Regions from separate parts of the Homo sapiens genome. Here region 2 is linked to region 1. The links come from fine-mapping of genetic effects on gene expression. Tissue or cell type: whole blood. Region 1 holds a variant in brackets; the other region holds the start of a gene. All regions are shown on one strand. Distances are from middle to middle.

The links. PIP is the estimated chance that this variant, and not a neighbour inherited with it, causes the effect.
Region 2: it holds the start of C1RL-AS1, and the variant in region 1 is fine-mapped to the expression of C1RL-AS1 in whole blood (TOPMed, PIP 0.97).

The regions. Positions count from the first base shown.
Region 1 is chr12:7,060,094-7,068,176 of GRCh38, forward strand. It overlaps C1S (complement C1s), which reads left to right and starts at 625. Exons shown (of 12, transcript NM_001734.5): 1 at 625-784; 2 at 1,746-1,824; 3 at 2,382-2,589; 4 at 2,797-2,974; 5 at 4,174-4,299; 6 at 5,007-5,206; 7 at 5,724-5,877; 8 at 6,425-6,540; 9 at 6,946-7,024; 10 at 7,550-7,678. The coding sequence starts at 1,820. RefSeq lists enhancers at 212-713, 714-1,213. The variant CTTTCTCTT/C (reference allele first, on the strand shown) is at 4,986.
Region 2 is chr12:7,104,713-7,112,797 of GRCh38, forward strand. C1RL-AS1 (C1RL antisense RNA 1) reads left to right here and starts at 3,596. Exons shown (of 12, transcript NR_026947.1): 1 at 3,596-3,769; 2 at 3,961-4,235; 3 at 5,352-5,435; 4 at 5,586-5,860; 5 at 6,313-6,894; 6 at 7,295-7,352. C1RL (complement C1r subcomponent like) reads right to left here and starts at 4,502. Exons shown (of 6, transcript NM_016546.4): 1 at 4,398-4,502; 2 at 3,539-3,767. The coding sequence starts at 4,468. RefSeq lists enhancers at 3,522-4,721, 3,554-3,723, 4,364-4,443.

The DNA.
Region 1 (8,083 bases):
GGTGTTACCTAATATTGGGTCCATGGACTACATAGCCTAAAAAAATCTATAAAATTTCAAAACACACCTGGCTTCAAGGGTTATGGATAAGGGAGTCTGGGTTGGATCTGAAAGGGGGCTTGGTTGTGGGGTAGAATTTCGATGTTTGGAAGGGATGTGGAGGGATGTTATGAAGAGGAAGCCTCACGCCATACCACCTTGGGTCTTGGTGTTAAGTCATTATCAACCATTACATTTGCTTTAAAGCAGAGATGACTTACATTTCTGATAACTACTTTCCCTTAATTCATGATTCACACACATTTGGAGGGCTGGACTTTCTGGGTTTGGTTATTTCCCCTGGTACCAATCCCCGCCTTTTCCCAGAAATCACTTGACTTTCCCGAAAACTCAGAAACACACCCTTTGGCTGAAAAATAGCATTAAGCAATCGGTGAAATTCCCCATTCCTCCTTTCCCCGCTGGAGCCCTGGATAGAGGGCTCTCTGGCCTGGGAGGAGGACGCTGTCCTTGTTTCAAAAGCAGAGGGAGCTCCAAGATCAAGGCTGAGTTTCCCTAAGTCATGGTCTCCCAGCCCCCTCTGTTTAGATCAGGGAATTTCAGACATGCACACTCGGGTAGGGAATCTTATGAACAGAACCAGGACAGGGAGGCTGGCCGGAGGTTCCTGCAGAGGGAGCGTCAAGGCCCTGTGCTGCTGTCCCTGGGGGCCAGAGGGGTTGCCCAGCATGCCCACTGGCAGGAGAGAGGGAACTGACCCACTTGCTCCTACCAGCTTCTGAAGGTAAAATCCTTACAAACGAGGAGCAGAGCTTTGATGGAGGAAAAAGGAAAGGCAGAAAACTTCACGTAGGAGGGCTTGGGGCAATGATAGAGGGCTGACAAAGGCAGCATAAAAAAAGGCAGAATATAGACAACCTATTTCTCTTAGGCTCACCCCATCCACCCCTACTTCACCCCCTTACCTACCACTGTTTTCAGGGTTAAAGCAATTTTAGCAACCCTTTACTAGGAACTGTGGGGAGATAGCTTGTATTTTCAGTAAGTTGGCGGTGGGGGGCAGGGACAAACTCCAAACAAACTCTGGAAAACGAATGTAGGAAGTTTTTATGTTCCTTGTCATTTGGCTGTCCCTTTTCTCCTTCCTCGCACAACCCTGTATCAGTGGGGCAGCACTTCCTTCTCAGACCGCTTGTCCCAGGGTCCCTGCCTTCCCCTAGTGAAAGAAGCTCCTGCCTCCATCGGTGGGCGTTGGGAGCATCAGCGGAGATGCACGCAATGATAAACAGCAGACAGGGCTGCTTGAGGAGATGAGGTGATCACGGTTAAAGAAGAGGGGCTGTCCTACATGGATGATCATGATGCGCCAAGACTGTTGAAAACCTGAGTGGAAATGGGAGCATCGTTCTTGAGGGCAGGAGAGAGACTGATACCGCGGGGGTGGGGCTGGTGGAGGACAATAGAGGAAGAAGAAAACTGGGAGAAAGTACTCGATTCCTTTGGAGAAAAATTAGGAGAAAGTCTAGAGAAGCAATGAGGGAAGGATACAATTTAGCTATAGTCTAGAAAGTTAGTCGAAGTTAACTAGGGAGGGTGTGAGGGGCACGGTGCCATGTGGGGATGTTGGTGATATGGCCCTGTGTGTTATACCTTTGAAGGTGACACTGAGCCCCAGGTGACGCCGCACCACCAAAGAAGGTGCTTGTGTTTGTCAGACAAATACAGCCAGGCCTGCCACCCCTTAGGCTCCAAAGTCCGGAGGTGCAGAAAGCCAGGACCAAGAGACAGGCAGCTCACCAGGGTGGACAAATCGCCAGAGATGTGGTAAGTGATCAAGGGTCCCTGAGATGACACAGACTCCATTCCCTTCATCTTCTCAAGAAAAGCGCTCAAGGGCCAGGCATGATGGCTCACACCTGTAACCCCAGCACTTTGGGAGGCTGAGGCGGGAGGATTGCTTGAGCCCAGGACTTTGAGACCAGCCTGGGCAACATAAGGAGACCCTGTCTCTATTAAAAAAAAAAAAAATTAGCCCAGCGTCATGCGTGTCACCTGTGGTCCCTGCTACTCAAAAGGCTGAGGTGGTAGAATCACTTGAGCGCGGGAGGTCAAGGCTGCAGTGACCTGAGATCGCACCACTGCACTCCAGCCTGGGTGACAGAGTGAGAACCTGTCTCAAAAAAAAAAAAAAAAGGGCTCTTGTCTGAAGCCTGGGTTTTGGTTTGACCTGGGCCTTTTCTTTATTCCGACCTAAGATTCTCCCCCATGGCCGATTGACTGCCTCTCTTCTTCCCCCTTTCTTCTGCCTCTGGCAAATAGCGCGTTCTGTCCTAGGCTACTGGTGCCTGGTCACCCGCCAATCTATGCCTCTGTTTTTTCAGGTGCATTGTCCTGTTTTCACTTTTGGCATGGGTTTATGCTGAGCCTACCATGTATGGGGAGATCCTGTCCCCTAACTATCCTCAGGCATATCCCAGTGAGGTAGAGAAATCTTGGGACATAGAAGTTCCTGAAGGGTATGGGATTCACCTCTACTTCACCCATCTGGACATTGAGCTGTCAGAGAACTGTGCGTATGACTCAGTGCAGGTATGTTATAAGCACAAAAAGAATAGAGATGGAAGACTAGGGCTAAGGTAGCGGAATAAGGATGTGGGAGGGAGTGCCACCTGTACTCACAGTGAACTGGAGTCAAGTCCTAGTGGCATAAATGTTCTATTCTCTCTGTCCCTTCTTTTAACTCCATACCAAAATATTACCCTTTCCTAGATTTTTTTTTTGTGACTCTTCTCTTAGATAATCTCAGGAGACACTGAAGAAGGGAGGCTCTGTGGACAGAGGAGCAGTAACAATCCCCACTCTCCAATTGTGGAAGAGTTCCAAGTCCCATACAACAAACTCCAGGTGATCTTTAAGTCAGACTTTTCCAATGAAGAGCGTTTTACGGGGTTTGCTGCATACTATGTTGCCACAGGTAAGGCTCACCCTTCTGCATGTGCCTTATTGACCCAGCTAAAAGATTAGAAATGAGAAATCCACTGAGCAACACATTGAATGAGGATTCTGTTCGTAATTCTTATAAAAAGTGTTGACTTGGCCTGGGTCGCTCCATAAATCACTTTTGTGAAATTCAAATGCATGATCATATCTTAGTGGTGATGATGATCATGGTAATAACACATAGTACATAATAAACAGCAATTTGTTGAGAGCCACTATAAACTGGGTATGTATTGGGGATTGGGGATTTTTCCTATTTTAACACAATCGTCACTTTAATCCTTCAAGGTAGGTATTATTTGCTCCATATAAAGATGAAGAAAATAAGGACTAGGAAAGTTAATAACTTGCCAAGAATCACACAAGGAATGTGTAGTATTTAAACCCATTCAATATATGGCATTCAAACCTTCAAATTCTGGGTACTTCTGTATCTCTCTCTAGGTTAAAATGAAGCTAGGACATCTCATAAAGCCAAACTATTGTTTAGATTTGACAGAAGGACCAACATCATATAAAGCAATGAATGTACTGATTCCTCCCTGCAGAAGGCATCGTCATGATGTTTACCTTGCAGAGTGTCATTCCTGGAGCTGAAATGCTCTGTACATGAGAAAAGTCAAGGATCTCTGACATTAAGAGCTGCCTAGGCCGGGCATGGTAGCTCACACCTGTAATCCCAGCACTTTGGGAGGCTGAGGCAGGTGGATTACCGGAGCCCAGGAGTTCAAGACCAGCCTGGCCAACATGGTGAAACCCTGTCTCTACTAAAAATATGAAAAATTAACCAGGCATAGTGGTGGTGCGTGCTTGTGTTCCCAGCTCCTCGGGAGGTAGAGGCGTGAGACTTGTTTGAACTTGCTTGAAAATGTGGAGGTTGCAGTGAGCCAAGATCCCACCACTGCACTCCAGCCTCGGTGACAGAGTGAGGCTATGTCACTTACACACACACACCCCCGAGCTTCCTTATAGCTGTGTAGTGGTAGGGCTCAACTCTGGAATCATATGTCAGGAGAGTAATATGGAATAATAGTAGCCTGAAATGTGATCCCTTGACGGATCTTTAAGCAATAGGCCTTTCCTACTTTTTCTTACCCTTATGGTTTTGGATTTAACCTCATTCTCCCTTCTTGGTGTTTGTTCTTGACCTCAGCCTCTTTCTACTCTTTGTAGACATAAATGAATGCACAGATTTTGTAGATGTCCCTTGTAGCCACTTCTGCAACAATTTCATTGGTGGTTACTTCTGCTCCTGCCCCCCGGAATATTTCCTCCATGATGACATGAAGAATTGCGGAGGTGAGCTTGGTGTTAAGAGGGTTGCATGTTCCCTGGGATTTGGAATGGCTGAGGCCTCAGAAAGGGCTTTGTCCACCCTTCCAACTTCGATTAGGCCAAGCCTTCATTTGGCACTTCTTTTTTATTTTAGAATTTATTTATTTATGTATTATTTTTAATAATTTCAATAGTTTTGGGGGTACTGGTGTTTTTGGTTACATGGATGAGTTCCTTAGTGGTCAATTCTGAGATTTTAGTGCACTTGTTACTTGAGCGGTGTACACTATACCCAGTGTGTAGTTTTCTCGCCCCTGTTTCAACCTCCTCCCACGTTGAGTCCCCAGAGTCCATTATATCACTCTGTATTGGCATCTATTCTTAGTTACTCATAAGCTGAGATGAAGCCACAAGAAGGAGGAAGATAAGACTATAGGGTAAAGTTAGTTAATTGGATAAGAGAGATAGATGCCTGTAAAGGGTCTACTGGGGGCTGTTCATAACCAGAAAGGCTCCATCCTAAGCAAAGTGATGGAAACCTAATAGGGATTGGGTATTCCTACTGATACGTATTGCACGTGTAATTGCTCTATCCCTCCAGTTAGGGCAGGGATCTCAGGTTAGTTTGAATGCAGGACTGTCAGTTTCTGAGAGAAGGAATCATAGAATAGTGCAGGAATTCCTTTGCTTGACCCTGTATTTGATTCTCC[CTTTCTCTT/C]TTTCTCTGTTAGTTAATTGCAGTGGGGATGTATTCACTGCACTGATTGGGGAGATTGCAAGTCCCAATTATCCCAAACCATATCCAGAGAACTCAAGGTGTGAATACCAGATCCGGTTGGAGAAAGGGTTCCAAGTGGTGGTGACCTTGCGGAGAGAAGATTTTGATGTGGAAGCAGCTGACTCAGCGGGAAACTGCCTTGACAGTTTAGTTGTGCGTGATGGTTGATTAATACCCCACCCTTAACTTACACAGAGAGATCTCTCCCTGAAGACAAATTTTTTTTTCATACAGCATCTTTCTCTGTTGCTCAAGCTGGAGTGCAGTGGTGCAATCACAGCTCACTGTAGCCTTGATCTCTTGGGCTCAAGCAAGCGTCCCACCTCAGCCTCCTGAGTAGCTGGGCCCACAGACGTGTGTCATCAAACCCAGCTAATATTTTTATTGTTATTCTTTTTTTTTTTACAGAGATGGGGTTTTGCTATGTTGCTCAGGATAGCCTGAAACTCCTAGCCTCAAGCAATGCTCCCACCTCGGCCTCCCAAAGTGCTGGGATTATAGGTGTGAGCCACTGCACTCAGCCTGAAGATAAAATTATCTTTTCTCCTGACCCTTATTTTCTTCTTATTTTATGTGACATTTAATGCCTCTTTTATTTGTATCTCCCACTTCCCAATTTTACCTCTTCCCTTTAGTTCTTTCCCTCTTCTGATTTCATCATTTTGTTCAGTTTGTTGCAGGAGATCGGCAATTTGGTCCTTACTGTGGTCATGGATTCCCTGGGCCTCTAAATATTGAAACCAAGAGTAATGCTCTTGATATCATCTTCCAAACTGATCTAACAGGGCAAAAAAAGGGCTGGAAACTTCGCTATCATGGAGATCGTGAGTAACTTAGAAGTGCCTCTTTGGTTGGTGATACCAAAGTCCCCAAACAATGTGGGATCAAAGCAGGTAGATGATCCAGGCACACTGGAAGCACCTGTGATCTCAGCTACCGAGGGAGGCTGAGGCAGGAGGATCCCTTGAGCCCAGGAAGTAGGAGTTTGAGTCCACTCTGGGCAACAGAGCAAAACCTTGTCTCTAAAACAAAACAAAAACAAAGCAACAATAATTTAAAAAACAGATAGATTGTTGTTCTGATAGAATCCTGAGATACTTCACTTCTTCAGGAAAATCTAAACCAGTCAACGGTTGCTAGAAATGCCTCAACCTCTAGTAATCCTTTAACTAGACCTGAGACTGCAGACAGCTTGCGGGTGGTTAGTTGGTAATGCCATATGATTTTAGACATCTGCTGTATTGGAATGTTAAGCATCAGGATTGAGGACAACTGGACGATTTTAGAAAGTGTGAGAATGATGTAAATAGAATGAGAGTCTTCAACTATTTAGTAATTTTTTCCTCCTGTCCCAACTTCTGTTCTTTCAAGCAATGCCCTGCCCTAAGGAAGACACTCCCAATTCTGTTTGGGAGCCTGCGAAGGCAAAATATGTCTTTAGAGATGTGGTGCAGATAACCTGTCTGGATGGGTTTGAAGTTGTGGAGGTAAAGTACCACCTTGGCTTCTCCCCAGTCCCTGGCCCCAGATCAGGATGAGCGGACTGAAATTGTCCAGTTGTTTACCCAATGTATGTGTGTGATCAAGGTATAACACCTTTCCCATAAACACAACAGCTTAAGATCTGTAGTTCTCCCTTGTGAGTCATGGAGCTGCCTGGCCAGCTTGGCATTCTCTCTGCCTTCAGTCTTCTTGAGGAAGGGGAGTTGACACGTTGGGGCAAAGCTTTCTGTCAGCCTCATCTCCTGGGTGCTTTAGGTCTGCTAAGATGTTCCCAAGCTTCTTGTGGTGAGGACTCCTCATTGATCCAAGGCCAGAGATCAATTCCAGTTTTGATTTTGGTTTCCCATATCTCTCTTCAGAAATAAGTGGTGATGTTTATTATTCTCCAGGGACGTGTTGGTGCAACATCTTTCTATTCGACTTGTCAAAGCAATGGAAAGTGGAGTAATTCCAAACTGAAATGTCAACGTATGTGTCTCTTCAAAGTGGAAGTCTTTCTTTTTCTCTCAGAGAGAATGGAAAGATCAGCACATCAAAATTCAAATGCATGGTTTCCTCTTAGGCATGTGAGGGAGTGGGTTGGGTTTTTGAAGGGAAGCCAGTCATGGAAGCTTTTCTAGTCCCAGCCCCGCATCTGGTCCCAGGCCAACTAGATCGGCATGTTTCTTTCCAAGAAAGGGGCTATGGGATAGGTCGAGTTAGTAGCCCCACGTGGGTGCATTTGTGGCTTCCACTGGGCCTTCACCAACCACTGAGAACCAGGCTCTTCACTACGGCTTTCATGGGGCCATCTGAATTGGCATCTCAGCGGGTGAGAGAGCTGAGAGATGCCAGTTGGGGAGGATGGCCACAGAGAGGCTGGTGTGGGGAGGTTCATCCCAGGTGTGCCTGTGGATATGGGGTGGGGAAGCAGTGAGGATGAACCTGGCCCCATGACTCTTCCTTGGAGGAAGTGGCTGTCCTGACCATCGCTCTCCTTCCTTCGTCTGGTAGCTGTGGACTGTGGCATTCCTGAATCCATTGAGAATGGTAAAGTTGAAGACCCAGAGAGCACTTTGTTTGGTTCTGTCATCCGCTACACTTGTGAGGAGCCATATTACTACATGGAAAATGGAGGAGGTGGTAGGTTTCTTCTACTGGAGAAGAGAGAGAGAGAGTGAGAAGGTGTTGGAGGGTGGATAGCATAATCTGTGCCAGAGACAGAGTTTGGAGACAAATGAAGGCGATAGGACAGACATTGTTCATCCCCTTGGCTTCGTCCAAAGATACAGTTTTCATCTGGAGCAGGGCAAGTTCAGGGGAGCATCAGCCTCAGGGAATCATAGAGGTCACCAACTGAGTTCACAGCTGCAGCAGGAATTCCCCTACAACATCCATTTCATGGGATTACCCACCTTTTGACCAGTTATTTCATGTAAAACCCACAGGAGCAATGCCTTCAGCTTTAAGCCACCAAACTACACTGACTGGCTTTCTTGATGTAGAGGCTTTGGTCATGCTAGGTGCAGGGCTGAATGAGACCCTAAT
Region 2 (8,085 bases), 45 kb after region 1:
AAATAATCTTATTCGTTTTTATTAACCTTTCTTACATGTAGGCATAGTTCACATGTATTTCAATATTTAATATTAGAAGTGTTTGGGGTCTTTATTTAGAGGTTTGGTGATGTTTCTGTGATCAGTAATTGCTGTAGAAACTTCACTCTTGTCTATATCAATTAGCTCTATGGCCAAATTGGTTTCATTCTATGTTATTTCTCTTAAAGTCATACTTTCCAAGAACCTATGGATGATTTTAAGTGAGGACTCACTGTACCAAAAACAGAAGGATTAAGTGAAAGTCTACCTGCCAAACAGTGAGCTGCATCTCCCTCCACCAGGCCCTTTTCTCAGCTTGTTGACCAGAATGCTGGGGTCCCTGAGCTGGAATCTGCAGGAGTCCTCTCAGGGGAAACTGGCTGCCCCCAAATAAAATGCTTTTACATCCTGACAGTTGGGAGGCCCCCAGTGGCACATCTAGGTCACCTTGTCGATAACCCTATTTTCAAACCTATCATTTGACAAATTTTAGCTATCCACACAGAACTTCCAATCAGTATTTTAGTGCTCCACTCTTTTTTTTTTTTCCTTGAGACAGAGACTCACTCTGCACCCCACAGGCTGTAGTGCAGTGGCCTGATCTCGGCTTACTACAACCTCCACCTCCCAGGTTCAAGCGATTCTTATGCCTCAGCCTCCCAAGTAGCTGGGATTACAGGCGTACACCACCATGCCTGCCTAATTTTTGTATTTTTAGTAGAGACGGGGTTTCACCATGTTGGCCAGGCTGGTCTCAAACTCCTGGCCTCAGGTGATCTGCCTGCCTCGGCCTCCCAAAGTGCTGGGATTACAGATGTGAGCCACTGCGCCCGGCCTTAAATATGAATGGACAGCCAAGTATTATCAGATATCGTAGGAAAGTCTCTAACACAAAAAGCAGAGACCAAAACAGACAAACGGTAAAAAAGAACTTGGATGAAATAGACCCACTATAGAGAACAGAAGAAACATCTAAAAATAATCCCAAAGGAGGGAAAGGAGTTGATACTGCATCAATGAAACAAGAACAATACTCTATAAAAAGGCACATTTAGAAAATTAGAACGAATCCTTAGAAATGAAATAATATGTCAGTGGAAAGAAACCATTAACTAAAAGATGGGGATTTAAAGATGAGAAAATTTCCCAGGAGGCAGAACAAAAGAGATGGTAAATAGAACAAAACAGATAACAAAGCTAGAGAATCAATCTAGAACATACAACAGCTGAATTATAGGAGAAAGAGAAACTAAGGAAATGAGATATCTGGAAATTATTTAAAAAATAGCACAAGAACATTCCTAGAATTGAAGGACTAGATTAAAAGAGGCTCTAGATTAAAAGAAATCTGCACAATGAGTAAAAAACCACGTGTATCAAGAGACATCATAATGAAAGTCCAGAATACTGGTAATAAGGAAAATATTCCAAAAGTTCTAGAGAGAGAAAACAAAGGATTAGGAATGATAAGGGCATCAAACTTCTTAACAAAGTCTAGACCTAGAAGACAATATCATCAAAATTCTGGAAGAAAAAGGTTTCCAATCTAGAATGCTATACCCAGATCAACTATCCCTCCACTGTGAGGGTAGAACTGAGACATTTAGACATATATAAGATCTTCTAAAATTCACTCTAAAATACCCTTTCTAAGGAAGCCACTGGTGAAGGTGCTCCTCCAAAATGGGAGAGTAAACCAAAAAAGAGAAAGGTATGGGATTCAGGTTCAGCACAGGTAAAGGAAATCCCCAGAAAGAGGGAGAAGAGAACTCCCAGAATGTGTGACGGCTTAGAGAGCAAAGAACTCAGGCTGTGAAAATAAATCGAGAGATCTTCAGGAGGGATGTCACCAATTAAAAGGAGGACCGATAGACTGAAATTCATGCTTGAGTATTTCAGAAGAAGATTTACACTCCTGGTTAAGAGTCTGGTGAGATTAGTTACAGAGACAACTAAGCAAACTAAAAAGCAAAACAAAAACAAACACCCCCCACCAAAAAACAAAACAAAACAAAACAAAAAAACTCCATGTAACTATTGACTCCTAGGAAACCCAAAAGTTGGAGAAGAAAAGAAATATAATTATTTTATGCTATGTGCTCAGATGTGAATATTTTACAGTCATAATAATGTAAATAATGAATAAAGATTTAACTAAAAATGATAATATAGGTAAACTGGCAGAATGAGGAGGGGAAATGTGGGTGGTGAAGACTGAAGACAGATAAAGCTAGTCCTTATCTTCTATACTGTAGTTGAGCATTAATAGAAAATACGTAAAAATGAAAGACAAATAAGCATGTTATTTATACATATGAAGTTAAAGACCAGATGAAACAGCTACATGAATTGGCAAATGACTGCTCCTGAGGAGCAGCACTCAGGGGCGGGGAGGAACAGCTTGGAGACTGCTGTTATTCATAAACCTTTTTAAAAACCTTTTTTTTTTTTTGGAGACAGGGTCTCACTCTGTCACCCAGGCTGGAGTACGGTGTCATGATCAGAGCTCACTGCAGCCTCTACCTTCCAGGCTCAAGTGATCCTCTCACTTCAGCGTCCCTTGTAGCTGGGACCACAGGTGCGTGCCACCACACTTGGCTAATTTTTAAATTTTTTTGTAGAGATGGGGTCTTGCTATGTTGCCCAGGCTGGTCTCAAATTCCTGGGCTCAAGTGCTTCTTTCGCCTCAGCCTCCCAAAGTGCTGGGACTACAGACATGAGCTACTGCGCCCAGCCTTAGAAAACTTTAATTAAAAAACAAAAAGTCTTACAACTATTATGTATCCATAATAATTAAAAATTTTAAAATTAAAAAATAAAGTTCAAAAATTTATGTCATTTTGATATAAATAAAATTTAAATCAAAAGATAATGTGCTCTTTTTATTTTTATTTATTATTTACTTATTTTTGAGATGGGGTCTTGCTATGTTGCTTAGGCTGGCCTTGAACCCTGGGCTCCAGCCCTCTGATCCTCCAGCCTCAGTCTCCTGACTATACTGCTGGGACTGCAAGCTTGCATCACTCCATCAAGTACTGTTTTTAAAATGTCCTTATTCTGAATAAGGCTTTGGCGTTAGAAGTTTTGTAATAGCTCTTCCAAGGTAAGTGTGAACGGTGACTTAATCTTTTGTTATTATTTGTGTCCAGCTTCCTCACCTGATAGAGCAGGCACTCAACAAATACATGATGACATATTTTTAACAACCAATATGTGCGTCCCTGCCCCTGGCTCCATAGATTTGCAAGATTTGTGTGTCCATTCATAAGCCTTCCAAACGCAGGGCCTGCTTGCTGCCCTCTTTGCTCTGTGGGGCCCAGATGGCAGCCCCGGAGGCGCTGGTGGGAGGCTGTGTCCTGGGGTCCACCACTGCTCCCCGGTAAGCCAAGCCCGACTGCCCCTACATGGAAAATTCATCCCTCCTCCAGATGGGGGATTCAGGGCACCGCCACTTCCCACAACCCCGGGAATCTCCCTGGCCACAGTCCTGGCGGGACCCCCCCCATCCCCAGCTCACTGTGACAGAGTCCCCTGCACAGTCCTGGGACGGCTCCAGGTCGAAGTCCTGGAAGACGAGCCTCACAGCAAAGCCCTCTGGAGCCTTGATGTCCGTGCTGCTCTCTTGGCCTTTGCCATACGGCTCTGGGTACCCGGGGGATGTCAGCTGCTGGGGTAGCTCTTGGGCCAAGAGGACGGAGCCCCGGGTTGGGCAAGCCTGGAGGACTCCCCAGAGAAGCAGCCACCACCTGTGAGTTGGGGGGAGGGCAAGGTGGGGCCGCGCAGCTATGGCCGGAAGCCTGTGGGTGTGGGAGGAGCGGGGGAGCCGCGCTAGGACTCAGAGGCCTCGCGAGGCAGGGCTAGAAGCTGTGGCCTCACCCTTGAGGCCCGGGCACTTCCCGTCTCCTCCCTTGCTCCCCTTCCTCACCCCAATCCCTACAGCCTCCCGCGCAGCCTGAGCTCTAGGATTGTGGGTTTTCCATCCTCCGAAGACATCACCTTTGCTCATCTCCCAGGAGAGTCTCGTCCAAAGGAGGGGGGTGCTTTCTGCTTCAGCAGATCCCACCCCACCCTGGGATCCGAGGGAGCAATGGTGGGGCGAGTGAGGGTCTGCCGTAAATATCCCCCGACCACCCTCTGGGAAGGTGCTAGAGGCCACAGGCAAATTTCAGTCTCCCCATGGAATATCTGCTGTGCTGCTGCTGCTGCTGCTGCTGGTGTGTGTATGTGGGGGAGGTGTGTGTGTGTGTGTGTGTGTGGGGGGGGGGGGGATGTGTGTGTGGGGGGGGTAGGGTGGGGGGAGGGAGGGTTTGCGGCCACCCACCCTTTCTCTTCCCCTCCCGTCCTCTTCCCTCCTCCTCTGCCGGGGCCACACTCACATTGCGCCTGGACAGCCTTTGGAGTGAGGGCTTCTCCAGAGATATTTCCCCCACACTCTGGGTCCAGGCATCTGGAACTGGACATCTGGGACCTGCGAGAGAACTGGCCCAGGATAGGGAACAAAAGGTGAAGGCCGGTGGGGGAGGAGGAAGTTCCTGGAAATGTTAAGCAACTCCACAGTTCCCCTTCTCCAATTCTCCGGGCTGAGCGCCACCTGCCGTCTGACTCAGGAACAGCGGGCCCGCCGCAGCTTAGGGGAGAAACGTCCAAAAACCTCGCTGGCCCTCAGAGGTCAGGGTGGCAGGGCACTGACTCGACCCTTTTGTACTATTTAACATTAATTTTTGCCATGTGTGTAGGATGGCTCCTTGTGAGTTATGGCTGCTGCCTTCAATCAGCCATGTCTCTTCCTCCCCGACCTTTCCGTTCACGACATACCCGGGGAGCCTCCCTCTTGTAGAATTGAAGTTTGTGATCCTTGAACTTGAGCTTTCTCTTCCTTTCCCTCCTCCCCAAGCAGGGGTGGGGGACATGCGCTTAGGTGGTCTTTTGAATCCTATTCACAACCTCTGGAGGCTGCTTGTCCAGCATGGTCAGGGCTGGGGTCGAGCCCAGGTGTCCCTCAGTCCCTAGTCCCAGTCATCACTCAAGCCGTCACTCAAGCTTCTTTAGGCAGATACTAGAGCCCCTGCCTGCTCTCACCGCTCCCCGAGGAAGGACACTCACCCACAGCTTGGTAGGAGGCCAGAAGGCTCTTATGGAGATGGGTGGTCCCATCCTCAGAGAAGGCAGGTGTGTGGAAGGCCTTACGTTGTATGCACACACAAATGCATGTGCGCGCGCACACACACCTCTCAGAGAAGAATCTATTGCTTCCCCCATTTTGCATATAGTAATATGGAGGCAAGTTACAGACCCAAACAGGGTGTGCTCTGCATCTTTGGTTTTTCTAGGCTAGAGAGATTTAGGAGAGCCACAGTCTATGGCTACAAGGAGATGATAAGAGAGTGATGGCCAGGACAGATGCAATGTCTCAGGTACAGTCTTGAGATCAAGCCTACCTGTCTGCCACACCCCAACCCCAAACACAACTGGGGATGATCTCCCATACCCATCTTCGAGGAGTGGGCCTCTCTGACTAGGACTTCTTTCCTCCCCTGAGACCACTGAAACCTGCTCTCTCATAGAACTCTTAGGGTCACCTGGAGCACCTTGGGAGCCAGAGATGCAGCCAAAGAGTGAACAATGGTACCAATCCCAAGACCCATGTGTTAAGAAGAAACCAGCCAAGACTCAGATCAGGATTGGGGAGTCCACCCCTCGTTTCCCTTCAGAGCATTATTTCCTTGTTTGCTAAGAGGGGCAGGAACTGGAAAACTCAGGCTAGCCCATCTGAGAAGACTTTCCTGGAGATGAGCTGGAGGAGGGAGGAGTAAGGCCTTGGAAGGAAACTCCAGGACAGGTAGGGTGACCGACTGTTCTGATTTGCGTGGGACCGACGGGTTTCCCAGGACATGAGGCTTTCCGTTTTAAAATGAGGGAAGTTCTGGGCAAGCCAGGACTGGTGGTCACCCTAAATGGATAGGGGTTAAAGTGCTGGAGTGAGGCTGGGTGAGAAAGAGGACAGGGAGCCAAGAGGGTGGGGAGGCAGTGATGCACCGGCAGCCCCAGGTGACTGGGCAGTCCAGGGTCTGGATGTGGTCCCTGTTTGGGGTAATCCAGCACTCTGAAGATGAGGGCCCACCTTGGTCTCACCTAGGTGGCGTGTGCGGCTGCAGCATGAGTTAGGGTCAAGGGCAAGGGGAGGAATGGCTGGTGATGTGAGACTGGAGAAGGAGCTGATGGCTCTGTGCATAGCTGGTCACTGCAGGCCCCTGTGGGCTAGGGCTGAGCTGTGCCCCGCTGTGTTTTCAGCACCACCTCCCCTACACTGGGACCTCGTCTCTAACTGGCAGAGTGGTCAATGAAAAAAAGGGCATGCCTTGGCACATCATGGTCAAACTGCTAAAAGCCAAAGACAAGAGAAAATCTTTTCTTTTTTTTAATCCCATCCTAAAGACTAGACAGAACAATATTTTCAATGTCACTCTTTTCTCATCAAAACCAATATAGACCAGAAGACAGTGGAATATCTCTAAAATGCTGAAGGAAAAAAAAAGTCAACTCAGAATTGTTTTTCTAGTGAAAGTATTCTTCCAGAATGAAGATGAAATAAAGCTATTTTCAGATAAAAGAAAACAGAGATTCTTGTCGCCAGCAGACCTCCACTATGAGAAGCGCTAAAGAAAGTTCTTTAGGACGGGCACGATAGCTCACGCCTATAATCCCAGCATTTTGGGAGGCCAAGGTGGGAGGATTGCTTGAGCTCGGAAGATGGAGGCTGCAGTGAGCCATGACGGTGCCACTGCACTCCAGCTTGGGTGACAGAGTGAGACGCTGTCTCAAATTGGAAGAGCAGAGCTGCAGACAGGAATAAGAAGAACGGTAAATTTGAAGGTAAATATAAAATACGATTTTCTTTTTAATGTCTTTAAAATATGTAGAACTGTTCCAGGCAAAAATTATAACATTGTATTGTGAGGTTTATAACATATGTAGCTGTAACATATATGAAGACTGTAGTATAAAGCAGGGGTCCCCAACCCCTGAGCCGTGGACCAGTATTGGAGGTGAGTGGTGGTGAGCAAGCAAAGCTTCATCTGTATTTGTAGCTGCTTCCCATCACTCACATTACCATCTGAACTTCGTCTTCTGTCAGCAGCAGCAGCAGCAGCAGCATTAGATTCTCATAGGGGCACGAACCCTATTGTGAACTATGCATGGAGGGATCTAGGCTGTGTGCTCCTTATGAGAATCTAATGCCTGGTGACCTGTCACTGTCTCCTATCACCCCTAGATGGGACCGTCTAGTTGCAAGAAAACAAGCTCAGGGCTCCCACTGATTCTACATTACGGTGAGTTGTATAATTATTAATATTTCATTATATATTACAATAACAATAATAATAGAAAGAAAACATGCAATGAATGTAATGTGTTTGAACTATCCTGAAACCATCTCCCTCTGGCCCCATCCCTGGTTTGTGGAAAAACCGTTTTCCATGAAGCCAGTCCCTTGTGCCAAAAAGGGTGGGGACTGCTGGTATAGAGGACAAGGGGGTGGACTCATGGTTACAAGTTTCCTTCATTTCACATGAAGTGGTACAATAGGAACTGAGAAAACTGGAGTTTAGGATGCAGACTAATTCCCAGAGCAGCGGGTCTCCACCCTGTGGTGTGGGAAGACCCACAGGCCCTAAGATCCTTTCACGGGGTCTGTGAGGTAACAAAATGACTTTCATAAAAATACTCAGATGTTCTTTGCTTTTTTCCCTCTCATTCTGTCATGGTATATGGTGGATTTACAGAGGCTACGTGATGTGCAATGATTCATCCGTGGCAGTGAGCGGGATGCGTGCTTGTGTATCTTTGTGATTTAAAATGTTCTCAATTTTGATTTCTAGTACAGTGACTATTAATAGATATACCCTACATAAGCCAAAGCTCTCTGGAGTTCTCAATAATTTTTTAAGGGTATAAAGTTTGAGAACAGTTGCCCTAGGGTGACTACTAGTAGAAAAAAGCAAAGAAGTATAGCTGAAAGGCCGATGTAGAAATGAAAATGGATGTCTGAATTTGGGGGGACTT